3 linked regions of the Homo sapiens genome follow. The protein of the gene in region 3 interacts with the protein of the main gene of each other region in a pairwise test. Each region holds a gene or a part of one and is shown on either strand. Other genes may lie near its edges.

Region 1 (7,110 bases), on a different chromosome or scaffold from region 3:
TTATTTTTACTTTTAGTACAGATGTGGTCTTGCTATGTTGCCCAGGCTGGTCTTGAGCCATTGAGCTCAAGTGATCCTCCTGCTTTGGCCTCCTAAAGTGCTGGGATTACAGGCATGAGCCACCGTGTCTTGAGGGGTTTGTTTCTATTAAAAGACTTGGTGTCAGGGAGGAGCACAAAGCTTTAACCCATTGAACCTCTGACAGTTAAGATGGTGTTGGGTTAGGTTACATCTGGTTACTATCCTGGGAAAATCACTTCTATAGAGATGGCCTTCCAAGTGGTTTTAAAATGTATCTTTCTGTCTGGGCGCGGTGGCTCACGCCTGTAATCCCTGCACTTTGGGAGGCCAAGGCAGGTGGATTGCTTGAGGTCAGGAGTTTGAGACCAGCATGGCCAACATTTTGTATTTTTGTATTTTCTCTACTAAAAATACAAAAATTAACCAGGCATGGTGGTGGGTGCTTATAATTCCAGCTACTTAGGAACCTGAGGCAGGAGAATCACTTGAACCCTGTAGATGGAGGTTGCAGTGAGCCGAGATGGCCCCACTGTACTGCAGCCTGGATGACAGAGCGAGACTCCATCTCAAAATAAATTAAAAAAATGTATCCTTCTATTGAAGTTTTTAGGTTAATCATGTATATGTTGACTAAATTATGAATTAACTTGTTTATCAAAAAAAAAGTAAAAAGTAAAGTAAGTAAAAGTAAAGTAAAATAAATAAAATCAACCTTATAATTCACTTTTTCTTAAACTGTTTCAGGGAAAAAAGTATAAATGTTTACATTAATATTTTTAACCAATCTTGTAAAACAATTTCTGAATACTAACATCCTAGCATTCTAAAAGTATTTAAAACTATTGTTTTTTAAAATAGGAAAACGGACGATGTATTACTAAGCTGGAAAACATGGGGTTTCGAGTGGGACAAGGATTGATAGAAAGGTGAGCAGGTTGGATTTGAAAATTTTCTTGCAGGTAGGTTATAAACAAAGGTGATCTATTTCAAAAGATTGCATAAAACTTGGGATATTTTAATTTTAATTCCTGAATGTTATTCTCTTTACTTCAAAAATTAAAATTTCTTTTTAGATCCAATGCCATTTAACTCATTTATTCAAATTTTATTTTAATGTTTAAAGAAAATATATATTTTATATATTTTAGACTTTCTTCCTGAAGCTATTTTAGACTTTATTCCTGAAGCTATTGAAGCAACTATCTAAAATCTTACTGCATTTTCAACTTAAGATCTGCTAGGTTCTTTAACCTGCATAGAATTTTTAAGTACATAGGTTTGAAATAACTATAGTCTATGTTTATGCGTGTAATTATCTTTGAACTTATAAATCAGTTCTTTTTAGTATTTCTTTCTCACTACCTGAATAGTTAAACTCGGAGTATATTTTATATAACAATGTCATGATAATGCTCAGCTCTTTGTTCTTTTGTGGTTTTTTGATGTGCTAGAATGCATTGCACCTGAAATTTTGGCTATAATGTTAGACTAATTTGAGGCCTCATAATTTATATAACATAATGTGAATCCATTGAGATAGGATCATGTTACCTGGTGCTTATGACTTTATTAGTGTTAATAAATGTTCAGCCAGGTGTGGTGGCTCATGCCTGTAATCCCAGCACTTTGTGAGGCCAAGGTGGGAGAATCTCTTGAGCTCAGGAGTTTGAGACCAGCCAGGGTAACAAAGTGGAACCCTGTCTCTACAAAGATATACAGATTAGCTGAGCATGGTGACATGTGCCTGTGGTCTCAGCTGCTAGGGAGGCTGAGGTGGGAGGATAGCTTGAGCCTGGGAGGGAGGTAGACGTTGCAATGAGCCGAGATTATGCTATTGCACTCTAACCTGGGCGACAGAGCCAGAATCTGTCTCAAAAAAAAAATTAAAATTAAAAAACCCAATAAATGTTCAGTGCTGTTCTGGCATTTGGAAATTAGTTAATAATTAGTCCCTCTTGCTTTTTTTGGAGGAGAAATACTGTATTACTTCTAGTTGATCTTTTTAGGTTTACAAAAGATACTGCAAGGTTCAAGGATGAGTTAGATATCATGAAGTTCATTTGTAAAGATTTTTGGACTACGGTATTCAAGAAACAAATCGACAATCTAAGGACAAATCATCAGGTAATTAAATTAATTAAGGCCTATATTTTAAAGTCCTTTAACTTGATATAAATATCGTATTTTAGTGACTTATTTAAAACCTAAAATAATTTCTGGTTAACTTTGGAATATGTTTATGTTATTAATGAGTTATTAGTTTTTTTCTTCTAATAGTGTGAACTGAGTAAAGACAAAGGGACAGTTATCAGTAATGATAGCTGTTCCTTTCACCCAATTATATGCTATGTTAAGTTTTTTAAAGTAGCATAAGTCAGGATGAGAATAGCTTTTACTATTTGGTTCCTTAGTTACTGTTAATTAGTGGTAATAATATGCAGAACCACAAATATATCACCTTTATGTCTTTAGAGTCATTTCTTTTTTTTGAAGAAGAAGAATTTGGATTATTTTAATTATTTTTATATACAGAAAACTCAACAGTGTATGTTTAACCCAGTTTGGTGTCAAGTTCTTTAGCCTTTGCCTTTTCCTGCTTGACAATTCAAGCCACAGACTTGAGACCCAGGACATTGCCTCCCCAGTGACAGTGGATTTCGTTTTGTCTGTCGTAATTGGTTCTGATAGCTTCCACCAGCTGAACCTAAGCTCCATTGTCCTCTGAGTTAATCTGTGTAAAGGCGACAGTGGTGCGGGTCTTCTTGTGGATTAGACATCCCAGTCTTGCCTTCCCCTTGATAATGCGGTAAGGGACCCCCATTTTATGACACAAGGCAGGCAGGAAGACAGCCACCTCGATGGGATCCACATAGTGTGCAGTCACCACCAGCTGAGCCTTCTTGTTCTCCTCCAAGGTGGAGATGGTGTTAACTCCTGCTCGGAGGACAAGTGGTCTCTTAGTGGGGACATCCCCTTTGCCTGCAGCTTTCTTTTCAGCCCGGGCCAATAGCCTCTGCTTATTTTCTTGCTTTGTCTTTGGTCTGTACTTGTGGGCCAGCTTAAGCAGCTAAGTAGCTATTTGGCGGTGCAGGGCCTGGGTGAACTGGTTAATTGTAGGAGGCACTTTCAGCTGCTTACAGAGGATGGCTTTGTGCCACTGCAACCTGATATAGCGGGGCCATTTCACAAAGTGAGTGAGGTCCATATTGGGTGGATGTCCTGTCCAATGCCAGAATTCTTAGGCCTTTTCTCAAACAGGGGATTCACCACTTTCTTTCTTTCTTTTTTTTTTTTTTTTTTTTGAGATGGAGTCTTGCTGTGTTGCCCAGGCTAGAGTGCAATGGTGCGATCTCGGCTCACCACAACCTCCGCCTCCTGGGTTCAAGCCATTCTGCCTCAGGCTCCCAGGTAGCTGGGACTACAGGCATGTGCCACCACTCCGGCTAATTTTTGTATTTTTAGTAGAGGTGGGGTTTCACCATGCTGGCCAGGCTGGTCTCGAACTCCTGACCTCAAGTGATCCGCTTGTCTCGGCCTCCCAATGTGCTGGGAGTACAGACGTGAGCCACCACGCCCAACCAGGATTCACCACTTTCTTGGCCTCCTGTTTCTTCATGACACCAAGGGCCAGAGCCACCTCCTTCCTCTTGGCCTTTCCTTTTGGCATCTTGGGTGGCAGGAAGAGATTCTTTATAGTCATTTCTAAAGTCTAATTTATAGAGCATTTTACTCTTAAATAACTCCTGGATTATTACTGCTGTCATATTTTCTACTCTTAAAAGATTTTCTTACTACAAAATTAATAGATTACATAGAAAACTATGTATTTATTAAAATTTTAAAAGGGAGACAGAGTCTCGCTTTGTTGCCCAGACTAGTCTTGAGCTCCTGGACTCAAGTAATTCTTTGGCCTCAGCCTCTTGCATAGCTGGGATTATAGGCATGCACCACCACTCCCAGCTTCATTAGATTTTATTTTATGAACTTCAAGGAAATACTTAGAGTAGATTTGGAATTTTGATTAAGTAAAAAATTAAATGTATCTGGTACTCTCAATAGGATAATTCATTTATTTATTTATTTTTAATTAGAGACAGTGTCTCACTATGTTTTCCAGACTGGTCTCAAACTCTTGGGCTCAATGGATCCTCCCGCCTTGGCCTCCCAGAGTTCTGGGATTACAGGTGTGAGCCACTGTGCCTGGCCTGGAATTCATTTTGTACCAACTTTAGCTTGGAATTACTGGAAATGCTAATAGGAAGAAATGACTATGATTTTTTTACTCTCTAGACATGATTTACTAATATATATCAGCTGGCTGGACATGGTGGCTCATGCTTAGAATTGCAGCATTTTGGGAGGCTGAGGCAGAAGGATTGCTTGAGCTCAGGAGTTGGAGACCAGCCTGAGCAACATACTTAGAACCTATTTCTACAAAAAACTTGAAAAAAATTTCACCAGGCATATTGGTATGTGCCTGAGGTTTCAGCTACATGGGAGGAGTTCAAGGATACAGTGAAATACTACACTTTTGCCTGGATAACAGCAAAATTCTGTCTCTTAAAAAAATAAAGCTGGGCGCGGTGGCTCACCCCTGTAATCCCAGCACTTTGGGAGGCCGAGGTGGGCAGATCACCTGAGGTCAGGAGTTCGAGACCAGCCTGGCCAACGTGGTGAAACCCTGTCTCTACTAAAAATACAAAAATTAGCCAGGCATATTGGCGCACGCTTATAGTCCCAGCCACTCAGGAGGCTGAGGAAGGAGAATTGCTTGAACCCGGGAGGCAGAGGTTGCAGTGAGCCTAGATCACACCACTGCACTCCAGCCTGGGCGACAGAGCAAGACTCTGTCTCAAATAAACAAATAAATCCGGGTGCGGTGGCTCACGCCTATAATCCCAGCACTTCAGGAGGCCAAGGCGGGTGGATCACCTGAGGTTGGGAGTTCAAGACCAGCCCTGCCAACATGGAGAAACCCCGTCTCTACTAAAAATACAAAATTAGCTGGGCGTAGTGGCGCATGCCTGTAATCCCAGCTACTTGGGAGGCTGAGGCAGGAGAATCACTTGAACCCAGGAGGCGGAGGTTGTGGTGAGCTGAGATCGAGCCATTGCACTCCAGCCTGGGCAACAAGAGTGAAACTCTGTCTCAAAAAAATAAATAAATAAAAATAAAAATTAGGTCGGGTGTGGTGATCATACATGTAATTTCAGCACTTTGGGAGGCTGAGGCAGGAGGATTACTTGAGCCCTGGAGTTCCAGACCAGCCTAGGCAACATAGGGAGACCCCCTTTCTACAAAAAATTAATAAAACTAGCCGGGTGTGGTGGCATGTGTCTGTGGTCCCAGCTACTCGGAAGGCTGAGGCAAGAGAATTGCTAAACACCCAGGTGTTTGAGGGTGCAGTGAGCTGTGATTGCACCACCACACTCCAGCCTAGACAACAGAGTGAGAGCTCATGTCTAAATAAATAACTATACAAACAAACAGCTTATTTCATGTGGACATGTATTAATGATTCCATCGTACTAGACTATGAGTTTTTAAGGATAGGGACTATGTCTCAGACAGTGTTTTTATCTTCAGTGTATAAAACCGTTCGGTATACATTAGTGTTGTGAAAATACTGAACTCGCAACTCTTCAGCTTGAACATTGCAAAACTCCTTCATTTAAACAAAATTTGACCAGGCTGGGCACGTGGGCTTATGCCTGTAATCCCAGCACTTCGGGAGGTCAAGGTGGGCAGATTGCTTGAGCCCAGGAGTTTGAGACCAGCCTGGGCAACATGGCGAAACCCCATCTGTACAAGAAATATAAAAATTAGCAGGGCATGGTGATGCACGCCTGTAGTCCCAGCTACTTGGGAGCCTGCGGTGGGAGGATTGATTGAGTCTGGGAGTTGGAGGCTGCAGTGAGGCGTAATTGTGCCACTGCATTCTACCCTGGGCGACAGAGGAGACCCCGTCTCAAAGAACAGAAAAAGAAAACTTGGCCAATGGGAAGGAGACTTTTAATAACTTTAAAAAACACTTAAATTGTTTCATAAGAATAAAATAATTTTAAGGACTGCTAGGTACATTGACTTTGGATTTTTTTTCTATTTTTGGAACAGGGCATCTATGTACTTCAGGACAACAAATTTCGCCTGCTTACTCAGATGTCTGCAGGAAAACAGTATTTAGAACATGCATCTAAGGTATTTAATGGAATAGAAGTTGGGGTTTTTGTTAATAGTAGGACTACAGGGAAAAGTACAGTGCTAATCATAACAAACTATTGAATTAAAAATATGTTTTAAGGTGTTCTTTTTTGTTTAAAGAGTTTTCTATGAAATGAGAGACATGTTACAATAACACTAAACTGTAGCTAAATAGTCATAGAGTGACCAATTAAAGAAACACTGGCCGGGCGCTATGGCTCACGCCTGTAATCCCAGCACTTTGGGAGGCCAAGGCAGGTGGATTACCTGAGGTCAAGAGTTCAAGACCAGCTTGGCCAGCATGGGGAAACCCTTTCTCTACTAAAAATATGAAAAATAGCTGGACGTTCTGGCGAGCGCCTGCAATCCCAGCTATTCGGGAGGCTGAGGCAGGAGAATCACTTGAACCCGGGAGGCAGAAGTTGCAGTGAGCTGAGATCGTGCTATCATTGCACTCCAGCCTGGGGTATAAGAGCAAAACTCCATCTCAAAAAAAAAAAAAAAGAAAAAAAAGAAACACTATAACTAAATGACAGTGAAATGTAGATGTATGGTAGATCACTTTTTTTTTTTTTTTAAGACAAGGTCTTGCTCTGTCATCTAGGCTGGAGTGTAGTGGTACAATCATGGCCTATCTTGACCTTGACCCCCCCGGGCTCAAGTGATCCTCCCACTTCAGTCACCCAAGGAGGTAGGACTGCAGGTGTGGGCCACCATGCCTGGCTAATTTTTAAAAAAATTTTTTAGAGATGGGATCCCACGATGTTGCCCAGGCTCGTCTTGAACTCCTGGGCTCAAGTGATCACCTCACCTCGGCCTCCCAGTGTGTTGGGATTACAGGTGTGAGCCACTGCATCCGGCCTGATTGCCTATTTTCTATATTTTTGG
Region 2 (7,110 bases), on a different chromosome or scaffold from region 3:
AAGAGTGAAATTCCATCTCAAAAAAAAAAAAAAAAAAAAAAAATTTAGCCAGGCATGGTGCCATGTGCCTGTAATCCCAGCTACTTGGGAAGCTGAGGCAGAAGAGTTGCTTGAACCCGAGAGGCGGAGGTTGCAGTGAGCTGAGATTGTGCCACTGCACTCCAGCTTGGGCAACAAGAGCGAAACTCCATCTCAAAAACAAAAACAAAAACAAAAGAAAGAAAGAAACGTTTTAGGTGTAATTAAAAAATACCATGAAAGAAAAAAAAAAAGAAAGAAATTTTTAAAAAGAAAAAAAAATGCCATAGACTGGGTGGCTTAGAAAACAGTTTTTTGTTTTCTCTCTGAAAAGACCCTAAGAAAGAAAAAAAAAATCGCAATGTATTTTCTCATAGCTCTGTAGGTCAAGAAGCCCGAGATCAAGGTGTCAGTAGATTAGGTTTCTGGTGAGGCCTGTGTTACAGACTGCAGACAGCCACTTCCTTGCTGTTATCCTCAGGTGGCCTTTCCTCGTTTCAAGGGGGAGGTGTCCTCTCACTCTTCCTCATCTAATCCAATAATAAAGGGCCCACCCTCCTGACCTCATCTAGCCCTGGTACTTCTCAAAGGCCCATCTCCTATTCTTAGCACACTGGGAGTCAGGGCTTCGGTGTGTAGGGAGGGACACAAATGTTCAGTCCATAACATCCATTCGTGGATAAATTATATGTCTGAGATTTGCTTCAAAATAATATAAGACTGGGGAGAATGAGGGGTATAGAGAAGCAAGATTGGGCAGTTCACCTAATTGCTGTAGTTGGGTGAAAGGTTTGTAGGGTCTCTTTATAATATTCTGTCTACTTTGATACATATTGCACTTTTATAATAAAATATGTGAAATGTTACAGTTCTTCCATTTCCCTTATCCTTCTCTTTTTCTTTTTTCCATAGCACTTGTCACCTAACATTATTTGTCTATTGTCTATCTCTTCTTGACAGAATGTAAACTCTCAAAGGGTTGGGATCTTTGCTCTCTGACATAACCCAAGCCCCTTCAGCAGTAACTGGCATGTAATAGGTCCTCCGTAAATGTTTGCTCACTGATGAAAACAGCCCAACTCCTCCATACTCCACACTAGACAACCCAGGATCCCCAAAGGACAGAACAGACTACAGGAGAAGCAAAGACAGTGCTGGGTATCAAGTTCTCAGAATAGGAATTTAATTTTGGAATAAGACTATACTAAAAATTTCTAGTGTATAGCTTACTTACTCAATTCTTAGAATGCTAAAGTGACATTTTTATTTAATTATATGGCAAAGGCTTTCTCAGAAGCATAATTTTAGGGACAAACTCCCTGCTTCCATGTGAACAGATGGTGTCTGCCTTCCCTAAGTACTTGGTAAAGCAGGAGTCATCAGACATGCTAATATTGGTCCGAGCTGTGCTACTAAACAGTTACACTGATCATGGCCAGTCACAGCAAAACCAGCCCTCAGCTCCTCAACTTCAAAATGACTTCTGACGGCCCTTCTCATTAACCTGGATGTTTAGAGCTTGCTGACTGGTCTAGGTGAACTGACAGTGCCCACAAATGGCAAGCTACAGATTGAGTTAAAGTTACTATCCAAACAGGTGGTTGTCAGTTCCAAGGCTCTGCTAAAAATTTCAACCCTGAAATTGTTTTTTTTTGTTTTTTGTTTTTTGAGACAGGGTCTCACTCTGTCGCCCAGACTGGAGTGAAGTGGCACAAACATGGCTCACCGCAGCCTCAAATTCCTGGGCTCAAGCGATCCTCTGGCCTGTCTCCCAAGTAGCTAGGACTAGAAGCACGCACCACCATGCCCAGCTAACTCTGAAATGTATACAATCGCTTCAAACTGCTAACAGATCTCAGTTAAAAATAAGAAAAATGGGCCAGGCGCGGTGGCTCATGCCTGTAATCCAGCACTTTGAGAGGCCGAGGCGGGCAGATCACAAGGTCAGGAGATCGAGACCATCCTGGCTAACACGGTGAACTCCATCCTTACTAAAAATACAAAAAAATTAGCCAGGTGTGGTGGTGGGCGCCTGTAGTCCCAGCTACTCGGGAGGCTGAGGCAGGAGAATAGCGTGAACCCAGGAGGCGGAGTCGGAGCTTGCAGTAAGCCGAGATCACGCCACTGCACTCCAGCCTGGGCAATAGAGCGAGACTCTGTCTCAAAAAAAAAAAAAGAAAAGAAAAGAAAAATGTCCAAACATACAATGGAATGGTCCCTGGTCACTGTTAAAAAAAAAAAATTGCAAACAGGGGCCTAAAATAATATTCAGAAATTAAACACCATGTAACAAATGTCCAAAAAGCCACATAAGGGAGAGAGCACAGAAGAGGCTGGACTTTTCCTAAGAAGGGATCACCCCACCTTGTAACCACATCTAGAACCCAGAAGCCCAAATGTCAAGATAACATTCCCTCGGTCAGGAGTACACGAAGGACAAACCTCCAAAGACAGACGCAGCTGTCTAAAACCAAAGACGCTTGATGAATGCCGGCCACTGCGCGCTTGGTAGCTAACACAGACAGTGGTGCGGCAGGTGGCATGGTGCCCCACAACATCCTAACCCTCAAAACCTGTGAATGTCACCTTATTTGGGAAAGGGGTCTTTGTAGACTTAATTAAGTTCAGGAGCTCAAGATGTGATTATCCCAGATTATCCAGGCAGGCCCTATATATAGCTGGATTCTAGATATATTTCAAAGATAATGTCAGTTGTGAGAGAAAAAAGAAGTCATAAATGACTCCAAGGTTATCAATTTTTAATTTAAAAACAAATATTCTCTAAGGCCAAAATACTGTGACTATATTTGACATTAAGAGCAGATAGAGGAAAGATTTGAGGAAGAAAGAAGGTGAGACACAGGACAGGAAGCCACAGGAAGCTCTGAGGCAACCCACCACAGAGGCAGGCACTGAGGTGGGAATGTTTTGACTGTTTAAGACCCTGCAGCTGTCTGGGCACAGTGGCTTATGCCTGTAATCCCAGCACTTTGGGAGGCCAAAGAGGGCGGATTGCTTGAATCCAGGAGTTCAAAACGTGCCTGGGCAACATGGCGAAACCCCATCTCTACTGAAAATACAAAAAATTAACTGGGCATGGTGGCACACAAGCAGCTACTCGGGAGATTGAGGTGGGAGAATCACCTGACCCCAGGAGGTCAAGGCTGCAGTGAGCCGAGATCATGCCACTGCACTCCAGTCTGGGCGACACAGTGAGACCATGTCTTAAAAAAAAAAGACCCTGTAATCTTCTGCCGTTGCTGGTCTCTAACTCCAGATCTAAAGCCACCAGGTCTAGAGTGGAGCACGGGGGTGGGAGGGTCAGTACTTGGAGATCAGTGTGCAATACCTTTGGAGACCACACACTTACACACTAAGGCATGCGACTCCAGGGAAGACACTCTGTCAACTGGCAACAAACTTTCCTACGACAAAAAAATCCTTAAGTCAGTTATTTGTATTTCCATTAAAAGATAACCAACTCAGCCAGAGTGAGCCACACAATCACACTGTCAGTTGGCAGGCCTCTGGTGGAAGCACACAGCAAAAACTCTCTAAGGAAAGACTGGTTCATGTGTTATGCCCGACATACTTTTTTTTTTTTTTTTTTGAGACGGAGTCTCACGCCAGGCTGGAGTGCAGTGGCATGATCTCGGCTCACTGCAACCTCCGCCTCCCAGATTCAAGCAATTCTCCTGCCTCAACCTCCCGAGTAGCTGGGACTACAGACGCGAGCCACCACGCCCAGCTAATTTTTGTATTTTTAGTAGAGACGGGGTTTCACCATGTTGGCCAGGGTGGTCTCAATCTCTTGACCTCATGATCCACCCACCTTGGCCTCCCAAAGTGCTGGGATTATGGCCATGAGTCACTGCGCCCAGCCTTTATTTTTTTTTCTGAGACCAGGTCTTGCTCTGTCACCCAGGTTGCAGTGTGAGGTACAATCACAGATCACTGCAGCCTTGACGTCCCAGGTCCAAGTGATCCTCCCGCCTCGGCCTCCCAAGTAGCTGGGAGTACAAGCGCACACCACCACACCTGGCTAACTTTTTTATTTTCATTTTTGTAGAGATAGGAATTCCCTATGTTGCCCAAGCTGTATCATACTTGATTATTTCAGAGATTCATCAGCACTTAAGAAAAAAAGAAAAAAAAAAAGAAAATCAGACCTTTCCATTTCATTTGCATAAAGAACTTACTAGAAACTCTTCAGAAACACATCTTGTAGTAAAGTAGGTGTGTGAGCTGAAAAGAAAGGAAGCTTTTCAATTCTAAAGTATCAGTTCAAATCCACCCTGGAGTTGGGCTAATAACACTAACAGCACGGGTTCCCAAACTGTGTACCTAGGCTTCCCACACACTACGCAGAGAGGCACCAAGAGATATTTTAAATTTATGAGGGAAACAGCAATGCTTGTGGTGTAGGAACCCCACACAAGGTATTCACAGTGTCAACATCAGATCAGGGCTCCACTTCTTTCGATGACATCATTATCGTCGCAAAACAGGGTGGCTGCTCTGATAAAAAGCAAGTACCACCAAAAAGAAGAAGAAAAAAAAAAAACCAAAGGGAGAAGCAGCGTCCAATCCGACCTTCAGGTGAGAGGTGCCACAGAGCTCCCGCAGGGCCTGCCCCCCACGTAGCACACTGCTGCAATTAGGAAGAATGATGAAAATATTTTTTTCTTCCAACTTATATATATTTTTTTTCAAACAGCTCTTGTTAGGACATAATATTTAATAAATTACTGGAATCTAACTACTTAATAAATGGAATTTTTAAGTATTCCTTTTAGCCTAGAGATGCCATGAAAAAAATTACCGAGACACTAAAAGCATTGTGAACAGAGAAAATTGAGGAACCTCTCCTTAGTAACTTTTTTTGCACACTGACTATAATCCTGACACTCTCCTGAGTGCTTTACACACCCTTCTCAACCCGATGGGGTTGGTACTGTACCCGTTTCACAGCTAAGGGTCTGTGAAATTATGTAAGAACCGAGGTCATGCGTACAAGATGGAATGGTTTGTAACCATGCTCGGGTAGAAATGACATAGTAAGTTAAGCACATTTGTTGGTGCCTTTAGTCCCCGCCTCCAAATACATACTCTCTGCAACAACTGCGATTTCCTAAGAAGAATGTTTCTCCTACTTTTCAATCTTTGGTTCAACATTGCCTTGAGAATTCAATATGAAACAAAATCTGCATTTATAACATATTCACCCATTTAAACAGACATTTCAAGTGACTTTTCTGGTAGTAAAACTAGTGATGGTTAAATCGCAAGCACCACATTTTCAGGTTTAGTAGAAAATTTCAATGTGCAAATTTAAAAACTTTAACCTGGCTGGGCGCGGTGGCTCATGCCTATAATCCCAGCACTTTGGGAGGCTGAGGCGGGCAGATCACAAGGTCAGATCAAGACCATCCTGGCTGACACGGTGAAACCCCGTCTCTACTAAAAATACAAAAAATTAGCCAGGCGTGGTGGCGGGCGCCTGTAGTCCCAGCTACTCGGAAGGCTGAGGCAGGAGAATGGCGTGAACCCGGGAGGCGGAGCTTGCAGTTAGCCAAGATCACACCACTGCACTCCAGCCTGGGCAACAAAGCAAGACTCCGTCTCAAAAAATAAAAATTAAAATTAAAAAAATTTTAACCTACAGGGGAAAATCCCAAAGTCCAACCAGACACGAAGCTCTACATATCTGCTCATTTCTGTTGCCTGTTTTCCCCTTTAAAAGTTTCTAATATCAGACCTGGAACCCCAAATACAGAAACTCAGAAAAATGAAACAGGCAACAGATGTGACTAATGAGAACAGATCACCTAGAGGGAGGGTACTATTATTGTTCAGAGAAATTCAATTCCAAGCTAATAACAGGTATGTGCTATTGTAGGTATGAGGACAGTCAACAAAGAAAAGCCACAAATCACTGGAATTACATTAACTTTGTCACTAACTGAATGAGATGGCTGGAAAAGGAACGTGTCTTTCCTAATACACCCTTGGAACAGAAACCCAAGTCTATTTCAAAACAGAAAACTGACCCTGTGGCTGAAAAACAAATCTACGCTAAAATTTAAATTTAGACCAAATGGATCTGCTGGATTTGTTTCAGTTACGCCAGGCATTTTTCATGATTAATAAAATATACTACAAGTTTTCCTATTGCTATGATTCGGTCATTCATCACCCAACCCCGTCAAAGCATTAGTTCCACTAACTGTTCAGCTCCCATCCCTGCACATTTCACATACACTCTTCAGTATTTACAAGCTGTAACTAGTTCTGAGTTTAAGAAGGCCCCTACTGTGCTAGTCCCTCTTCACAGGAGCCCGTTAGGCAGGAGGTTTAATTATGGGCTAAAGTCTATTAAAACATTTAGGGCCAGGTGCGGGGGCTCACGCCTGTAATCCCAGCACTTTGGGAGGCCGAGGCGGGCAGGTCACCTGAGGTCAGGAGTTCTAGACCTGCCTGGCCAACAAGGTGAAACTGTGTCTCTATTAAAATACAAAAATTAGGTGGGCATGGTGGTGTACGCCTGTAATCCCAGCTACTTGGGAGGCTGAGGCAGGAGAATCGACTGAACCCGGGAGGCAGAAGTTGCAGTGAGCCGAGATCGCGCCACTGCACTCCAGCCTGGGCAAGAGAACAAGACTCTGTCTCAGACAGAAAAAAAAAAAAAAAATTTGGAGAGCTTCAAAATATTATTAAAATAATTCAGGCCAGGTGAGGTGGGTCATACCTGTAGTGCTGGCTACTTGGCAGGCTAAGGGAGGGGTCACTTGAGCCCAGCAAGGCTGCAGTCGGCTATGACCATGCCACTGCACTCTAGCCTAGGTGACAGAGCGAGACCCCATCTCTAAAAAAATAATAATAATAAAATGAAGTGAAATAATCAGCTAGGTTTTAAAGTAATAATCTATTCTAATTACCCTTAATCTTTGGGAACTTTTCATTCTTCTATCCCTACATATACACAGTTTTTAAATTCACCTGAACCAGTTACATTCTATATTCTTCCCAGAAAGGTCTAAGCAGAATGCATTTTCACTGAAGTAAAATATTATACATTCTATGGAAAAAAAA
Region 3 (7,110 bases):
ATGTACAAATATTAAATACCATGGCCTTACCCCTGCGCCCAGGGTACACGTGCGGGTAGTACTCGTAATAAAGATCTGGCTGATCAAGATTTCCGAAGGGTTCAAATTCCATCTCAGCATTCTGGAAAAGGCCCAACTTCACTAGTAGTGCCAGCCTGACAAACCAGAGCTAAAAACAAAATACAATGGAAACAATAGGTTATCTACATATATCCAGTTCAGAATTTGCTATTCCTTATGAGTTGGTGTTAGAGGTTAATTTCTCATATATTAAAATAAGGGCTAACCTAACTTTCTATCTTTGCATATTTACACAATCGTATTTAAAAAATTACTCTTGAAGCTGGGCATGATGCCTCATGCCTGCAGTTCCAGCTACTCAGGAGGCTGAGGTGGGAAGATTGCTTGAGCCCAGGAGTCTGAGTCCAGCCTGGGCAACATAGCGAGACCCTGTCTCTAAGAAGAAATTACTATTGAGCTTAATAACAATGTGAATGATTTTACATAATTGTTTACTCAATAAGTAAACAGTGCTTACTGAGCAGGTCTGTGTGCAAAGCACTGTGCTAGGTGTCATGAAAATGAAAAGGCACCAAAGGAATGCGCCACCTAGTGGAGGGCGGGGGAATGACGGCGGGAACGGGAGCAGGAAGGAGAGGAAGCGCAGGGATGGGTTGTGTTTGAGGGCAGCTCTCAGGGCTGCAGAATTTCAAGGGGCCACAGGCTAAGGAAGGGTCTGCTGGTTCAGGGAACGTAAGGACAAAGGTACAGAGTGGACAAAACACAACATACGAGAGAGCACAGTGTGCTCTCAGGGGTACATTCAGGAAAATGGTGGGAATTTGCATTAGACAGCTGCAGAGCCAGAGACTTAGGATTAAAAGGGTACCTTAGAAATGACCTAATTGGATCTGACTTTACTGATGAGAAGAATGAATTTCACTAAGTGTCCGCTGAAGGATGAACGGATAAAGGAACGTGGCATGACGCACAGTGGAATACCACTCAGCTTTCATGGAGGAAATCCCGTCGTTTGTGCTGTGGATGAGCCTAGGGGACATGACGTTAGACAAACAAGCCAGGCACAGAAAGACAAACACCGTGTGACCTCACTTACACATGGAATCTGAAAACACTGAACTCACAGAAGCAGAGTAGATGGCGGGTGCCGGGGCTGGGGGTGGGGAGGAGGGCCGGGCAGGGGAGGTTTGAGAGATGTTAGTCAAAGGAAACAAAATCCAGTGACGCAAGGAATAAGCTCAAGAGATCTATTGTAGACGTGGTGACACAGTTACAATGTATACTAAAAATTGCTAAGACAGATTTTCAGTGTTCTCATTACACACACACACACACACACACACACACACAAAGGCATGCGAGGCAATGCATGCGATTTAGCTTGATTTAACCATTCCATAGTGTACACATAGCCTGTCATGGTCTGAGGGTTTGCATACAACACGAGAAGATGAAATTTCACATGGTAGCCAATGGGAAACTATCCAGCTCTTGACTAGCTCCGTTTCAGACCTAGTTGGAAAGGAGGGTGGTTCACCCTCTTTAGGCAGCCTGGTGGTTCCTGGCTCTAGGGAGGTCACCATATTGGTGTTGAGCTAGTGCCAACACCTGATCAACAAAGTGCACTACGGCCCAGAAGCCCCAGGCCCAAGTGATCTTCCTGCCTCAGTCTCCCCAGTAGCTGGGACTACAGTCAATGCGCCACTGCGCCGGGCACAGTTTTCCAGCAGGAAAGTGAGATGATCAAAAGTGTGCTTTTTTGGAGGTAGTTTATGGAATGAATGTGAATAAAGAAACTTGAACTAAGTTCATAAAAGAGGCCAAAGCAACACTGCAATGAGAGCTCGAACTGTGGGTGGTGGTGGGTTGGAGAGAAATGATAGGAAAACAGCCTAAGATTTGGCAAACCAATGGATGGAGAGGTGATGGGGGAAAGTACATTTAAAGCTAGAGCGGCTCTTCTTGTCGGCTCTTGGGGGAAGAGAAAGAAGGAGAAGGAGCCTGCTGGAAATAGCTAAGCTGTCAGGGCTCCCCAGAGCTGCTCCTTTCAAAAGCTCATCACAGTTCTGAAGGATCTGGTGATCTGTTTAGTCCCGGGGGATTCCCATGTAAGCTAGAAGAACAGTTAAAAAACTCCCCAGGGAAAGGTAAGAATGTATCAACGTTTGCAGCTGTTCCTTCTTCTCAGATGAGTTTCCTTTTGTTCACAAGTCTATTTTGTGCATTCCCTTTTCTTTTTTCTTTTTTTTTAAATTTCAGAGCAAGTGATATACCACGAGGAGCAAATGGCACATGGACCCTCCGTCCTTGGGGTGGACAGAACCAACTGCTCCTGTCACTGTTTCCTACCGGGCCCAGACACGCCCCAGAGCCCCGCACAGGCCAGTTGCTACTGCCAGTCGTGAGGCGAACCCACCTGCTGACCCAAAGCCATGCCGGTTCCACCATGAGACTGAGTGTGGGCACTTGTGAGCGTGCTTCTGGGGCGCACAGGCATCCTGACGGGCCGAAGTGAGAATTCCAGTGCCCCAGTATAGTATATACAATATAATTAGGAGAGAAAGAAGCAGGATATGAAAACATACTTTTTGTTATTGGCATGAAAGGCCATGGTCCTGTCCATGTCCCCAGACTGTGATAAGCCAGGTTAAACTCCAGCACCTGAAAGGTGTTCTCACCTGCAGTGAATCTGTCGTGTGGCTGGTGAGCAGCCCGCTCTTGCCGTAGCCCTGGCCGTGGGCTGTGAGGAGACGTCCGCACAGGTCCACTGCTGCCCTCCAGTTTCTGCAGCTCTGCAAGACACGGCAGAACATGTGACCAAACACACATGCAAGGCATGGTGGAATCCATGACCCAAACGCATAGCCACTGGCCACAGCTGCTCACCTTGCTGGAAGCAGCGCCAGCCAGCCGTTAGTAATGGTGACAACGTCAGTGTGCTGACGGCACGGAGGGGCATGCCATTTGTCAACGCTGCACGTGTAATTAGGCAATAAGAGAGCCAAGCGTGAGGTACAGTTCAAGCCGATCAAATCATAAAAACATTACAATTCAACAACCGATAGAACATCGGGAAGAGGCTTTTTATTGGAAAGCTCCGCACATCTCTCAATCTATATGACTGGTTTCCTTTTTAGCAAGATTATCTTAAGATTTCTGTCAATTTAAAATCAATAAGGAAATTTTATGCTATGTGTTGGACATATTTATTTGTATCTGTAAGATTTGCATATGACTCTAAAATAACTGGCTTTATATGTTCATAATTTTAATTTATCAATATGAAAAAATCAATGAACTGGGTGAACACAACATGTTCCAGGCCCGTGTGGCAATGCACAGTATACTTTCACATCACTTAACGTTACGGCTTCAACATGGAAAGGCTGGCTGGTACTGACACACTGGCTGATTCGTACAGACTCTTGTGTTTATCTTTGCCCTTGTGCAATACAGAAAGGACAGCCATTAGGCAAATGAATGGGAAAATAAGATCAGAATGTTTAAACCTTTTAAGAAGCTAAAAGTGGATGCTCACTCTGTCTTTTCTCAATGTAACGGGCACTATCTTTGAATACGGTAGATGTCCTCATTTCTGCAGCCAGTCAATAAACATGCTTTAAGTACCTCCTGCCTGACAGAGACTGCAAGGCTGGCGGGGAGGTTAGTGAACGAGCACTCATTAGTGGTATGATCTAGCAAGGGAGACAGACAATTAAACAATATGTTTCTCAAGAATTAGCTAAATGATTTTGTGTGCATGCCAAGCGCTTCTCTGACAAGAAGTTTAGGAGTTTACATATTTTAAAAACGTGTGGTAGAGCCTGCCACACACTTCTTCTGTATACTAACTCACACACGCACTACTCCCTTTCCACGCCTCCTGCACTCCACGCCGGGACACAGAGAACTCAGGACCTGCTCATGAAACGCCTAGGAGGGCAATGAGTCTCAGCTTTGCACTACAGTTGTTCTGCAGTCCTTTATTTGGGCTTCCTCAGGCAGGAGCTAACGACCTGCTCCAATTCCAGCCACAGCGGCGGTGTGGGGGGCTGTGTTGAAGGCAGGAGAGTGGGGCTTGTGTCTTCCGGGGTTCTGACATGTGGCCTCACACTCACACTGCAGGCTCAGCAATGGCTGAGTTTACAGAGCTGAGGTCATCTGTCCCACCTCACAGATGTGACAATTAAAGAAGATACATGAAAGTGCTGAGCACAGTGCCAGGCAGGAGGCAGGCATTAAAAATGTGAACGATGCTGTTAAAAATTCCCAAACTGTTTCTTCATCAATCCAGAGTCAGCGTGTGCGTGCCTAGTGAAACTCTATGTGTAAGGAAAGGAACGGGTGCTGGGCCTTGAGCTTCAGACAGGCCAGGCTCTACGCCTGAGTAGCCGTGTGACCTGCTGCAAGCCACCAGCCGTCCCTGGGCTGCAGGCATCTCAGTTTCCTCCAGGTCTTCTGAGGGGTTGATAGTTGTTTTTTTTTTAAATGCTGAACATCCTACTGTCCACATTACCAGTGTGTTTACCCACTGACCTATCGAAGGACCCCTTGGTTGCCTCTAGTTTTTGGCAACTATGGATAAAGCTGGTATCAACATCTTTGGGCAGATTCTTGTGTGGATATAAGCATTCGGCATAACTGGGTGAAATATCCAGGAGCGTAATGCAGTAACTGGATTGCTGGGTTGTACCTAAGAGTATGTTTAGTGTTGTAGGAGGCCGCCAAGCTGTCTTCCTAAGTGGCCGTGCCATCTTGCCTTCCCTAGCAGTGAGGGGTCCCACGGCTGCACGTCCCGTGGCACTTGGTGTTGTCCATGCTATTTTTCAGCCACTCTAACTGGCATGCGTTTCACTCTCAGGTGAACTTTCCACCGTTCTCTCATGGAGTTTTTCCTTTCACTGTACCTGCCACAGCCTGACGGTGAGTACTGGCCTCCACGGCACCCACCAGCGAGCTGCAAATATTAGCAGGGCAACTCAAATGAGATTTCTTAAACTCTATCTTGTAGATTTTTTTTTTTTTTTTTTGGAAATGAGGACACCAGAGCGTACACAGTGCAGTTGGAGTCTGTGGTTTTCTTCACTAGCTGGTGTGCGGCCACTGGACCAAGTCAGAGAACCACTGATCGACGGTGAAGATGAGATCGGTGCCACGTTCCCCTAAACTGTCCAGACTACAGCAAGTAATACAGGATTTCTGTGTTCTGGTTGACAGTTCAGAAGTATTTTTAGATTGGTTACGATAATTTACTAAAACGATCTCCAAATGCCTTCTCTAGTCTAAATTCAATGCAATAATCACTTTATATAATACAAATGGCTCTGTATATTCTCTTTGAATTGCAAATGTGAAAGAGTGAGAGGGAAAGAGATTGTGCCAAGTCTGAACCAGTTCTATATATGCATCTAGGCAGATTCTGTATCCAGGGGCAACTAATAACTGCTCCCTTCCTGGTTCCCTAGGCCTAAGGCTCTGGCCTTTCCTGCTAGAAAGGCTGGGGCCCTCTTCCCTCAGGACATGACCTACAGTGAGGACAGGCAGGAGTTAATCAGGGAAGGGGAGGGGGCGGAGACCCTAGAAGAGGACAGAATGTGTGCAAAACAAGGCGAGAGCAGGCATGGGGGGCACAGGGAGCAGAGGGCAGGGTGCAGGGCCCGAGGGGATGCAGTAAGGACCAGCGGGCCGGAGGGAGGCGGTGGAGGAGGGGCCGAGCAGGTGTGGATGAGGAGAGGCTGGGGAAGCAGGTGAGGATGGGGTGGCACAGGAGGTGAGGCAGAGGAGGGTCGGGTGTGCTGGCCTTTGCAGGCTTCCAAGAGCACAGGCCACAGCAGTGTCGTGTCATCACATTTGAAGGCCCCTGTCTCCCTGCACTGATGGGGTGAACTTAAGGCGTCCGTGTAGATGTGAGTAAAGCTATGAGGATGTTCCAGCAGCTGGGCCTGGTGCTGGCAATCTGTGCACATCCTTTGGACGCCCCCCACCCCCTACTGCCTGAGTTGGTAGGCAGAGCTCACAGGAACCCAGAGCCCAGCCTCGTGTGCACCTGCACGGTGATAAGGTTCTGTGCTACCATGGAAGAGCTGGGCATTCACAGCAGAGCTGAGGAGCTGGACAGATACTGTATGGCCAGGAAGTCTACAATGTTTATTCTATGGTCTTTTACAGAAAACGCTGGCGGATCCCAGGTCTAGGCCCCTCGTGGCTCAGTAGTTCATTTCTGTTGACTTCAAGGAGGACTGTGGGCTGACTTCAGCCCGCGAGTGGCTTGCGTCTGATACCTGAGGACGAGGCACAGGAATGGAGATGCTCCTGTAGTCACGTGACAGAGAACTTTATGTGTATGGCATGCAGTGATAACAAAGCAGGGGCCTGCATTTGGCATGTTTTCCATTTTATTCTTTCATGACTGATTATTGTGAATTAGTTATTATTTATATTGATGGTGCAGAGTGGCAGAAGCAGGCGAGTATTTGTAGAGATATGGTTTTCCCATGTTGCCCAGGCTTGTCTTGAACTTCTGGGCTGAAGTGATCTACTCACCTCAGCCTCCCAGAGTGCTGGGATTATGGGATTACAGGCATTAGCCACTGTGCCTGCCACTATGACAATGTTTTTTTTTTTTTTTTTTTTTGAGACAGAGTCTCTATTGCCCAGGCTGGAGTGCGGTGGCACGATCTCGACTCGCTGCAATCTCCGCCTCCTGGGTTCAAGTGATTCTCTTGCCTCAACCTCCTGAGTAGCTGGGACTACAGGCGCCCGCCACCACGCCCGGCTAAAGTTTGTATTTTTAGTAGAGATGGGGTTTCGCCATGTTGGCCAGGCTGGTCTCGAGCTCCTGACCTCCGGTGATCTGCCTGCCTCGGCCTCCCAAAGTGCTGAGATTACAGGCGTGAGCCATCACGCCCGGCCAATGACCATTTTTAAAAATGAGAAACTTAAGGTTTTAATTCTCGTGGAAAGAAGAACAAAGAAGTTCGATGAGTAAATGTTGGCGGAATCTGCATTTCCTCATTCATTCACTCAGTGGCCATTTACTGACTGCCTGCTGTGAACCAGGCACTGTGCTAGGCTCGGGGGGACACAAGG

The links.
Region 1: the proteins of TRAPPC12 (region 3) and TRAPPC6B interact in a two-hybrid assay, tested with the Homo sapiens proteins (one study listed by BioGRID).
Region 2: the proteins of TRAPPC12 (region 3) and TRAPPC10 interact in a two-hybrid assay, tested with the Homo sapiens proteins (one study listed by BioGRID).

What each region holds. Positions count from the first base shown.
Region 1 is NC_000014.9:39,153,320-39,160,429, reverse strand, and holds part of TRAPPC6B (trafficking protein particle complex subunit 6B), read left to right. Parts: intron 1-879; coding exon 880-947; intron 948-2,027; coding exon 2,028-2,145; intron 2,146-2,513; exon of another isoform or gene 2,514-3,308; intron 3,309-6,135; coding exon 6,136-6,219; intron 6,220-7,110. UniProt on the Homo sapiens protein: Component of a transport protein particle (TRAPP) complex that may function in specific stages of inter-organelle traffic.
Region 2 is NC_000021.9:44,015,210-44,022,319, reverse strand, and holds part of TRAPPC10 (trafficking protein particle complex subunit 10), read right to left. Parts: intron 1-7,110. UniProt on the Homo sapiens protein: Specific subunit of the TRAPP (transport protein particle) II complex, a highly conserved vesicle tethering complex that functions in late Golgi trafficking as a membrane tether.
Region 3 is NC_000002.12:3,417,584-3,424,693, reverse strand, and holds part of TRAPPC12 (trafficking protein particle complex subunit 12), read right to left. Parts: intron 2,995-7,110; exon of another isoform or gene 2,908-2,994; intron 2,814-2,907; coding exon 2,700-2,813; intron 170-2,699; coding exon 31-169; intron 1-30. UniProt on the Homo sapiens protein: Component of the TRAPP complex, which is involved in endoplasmic reticulum to Golgi apparatus trafficking at a very early stage.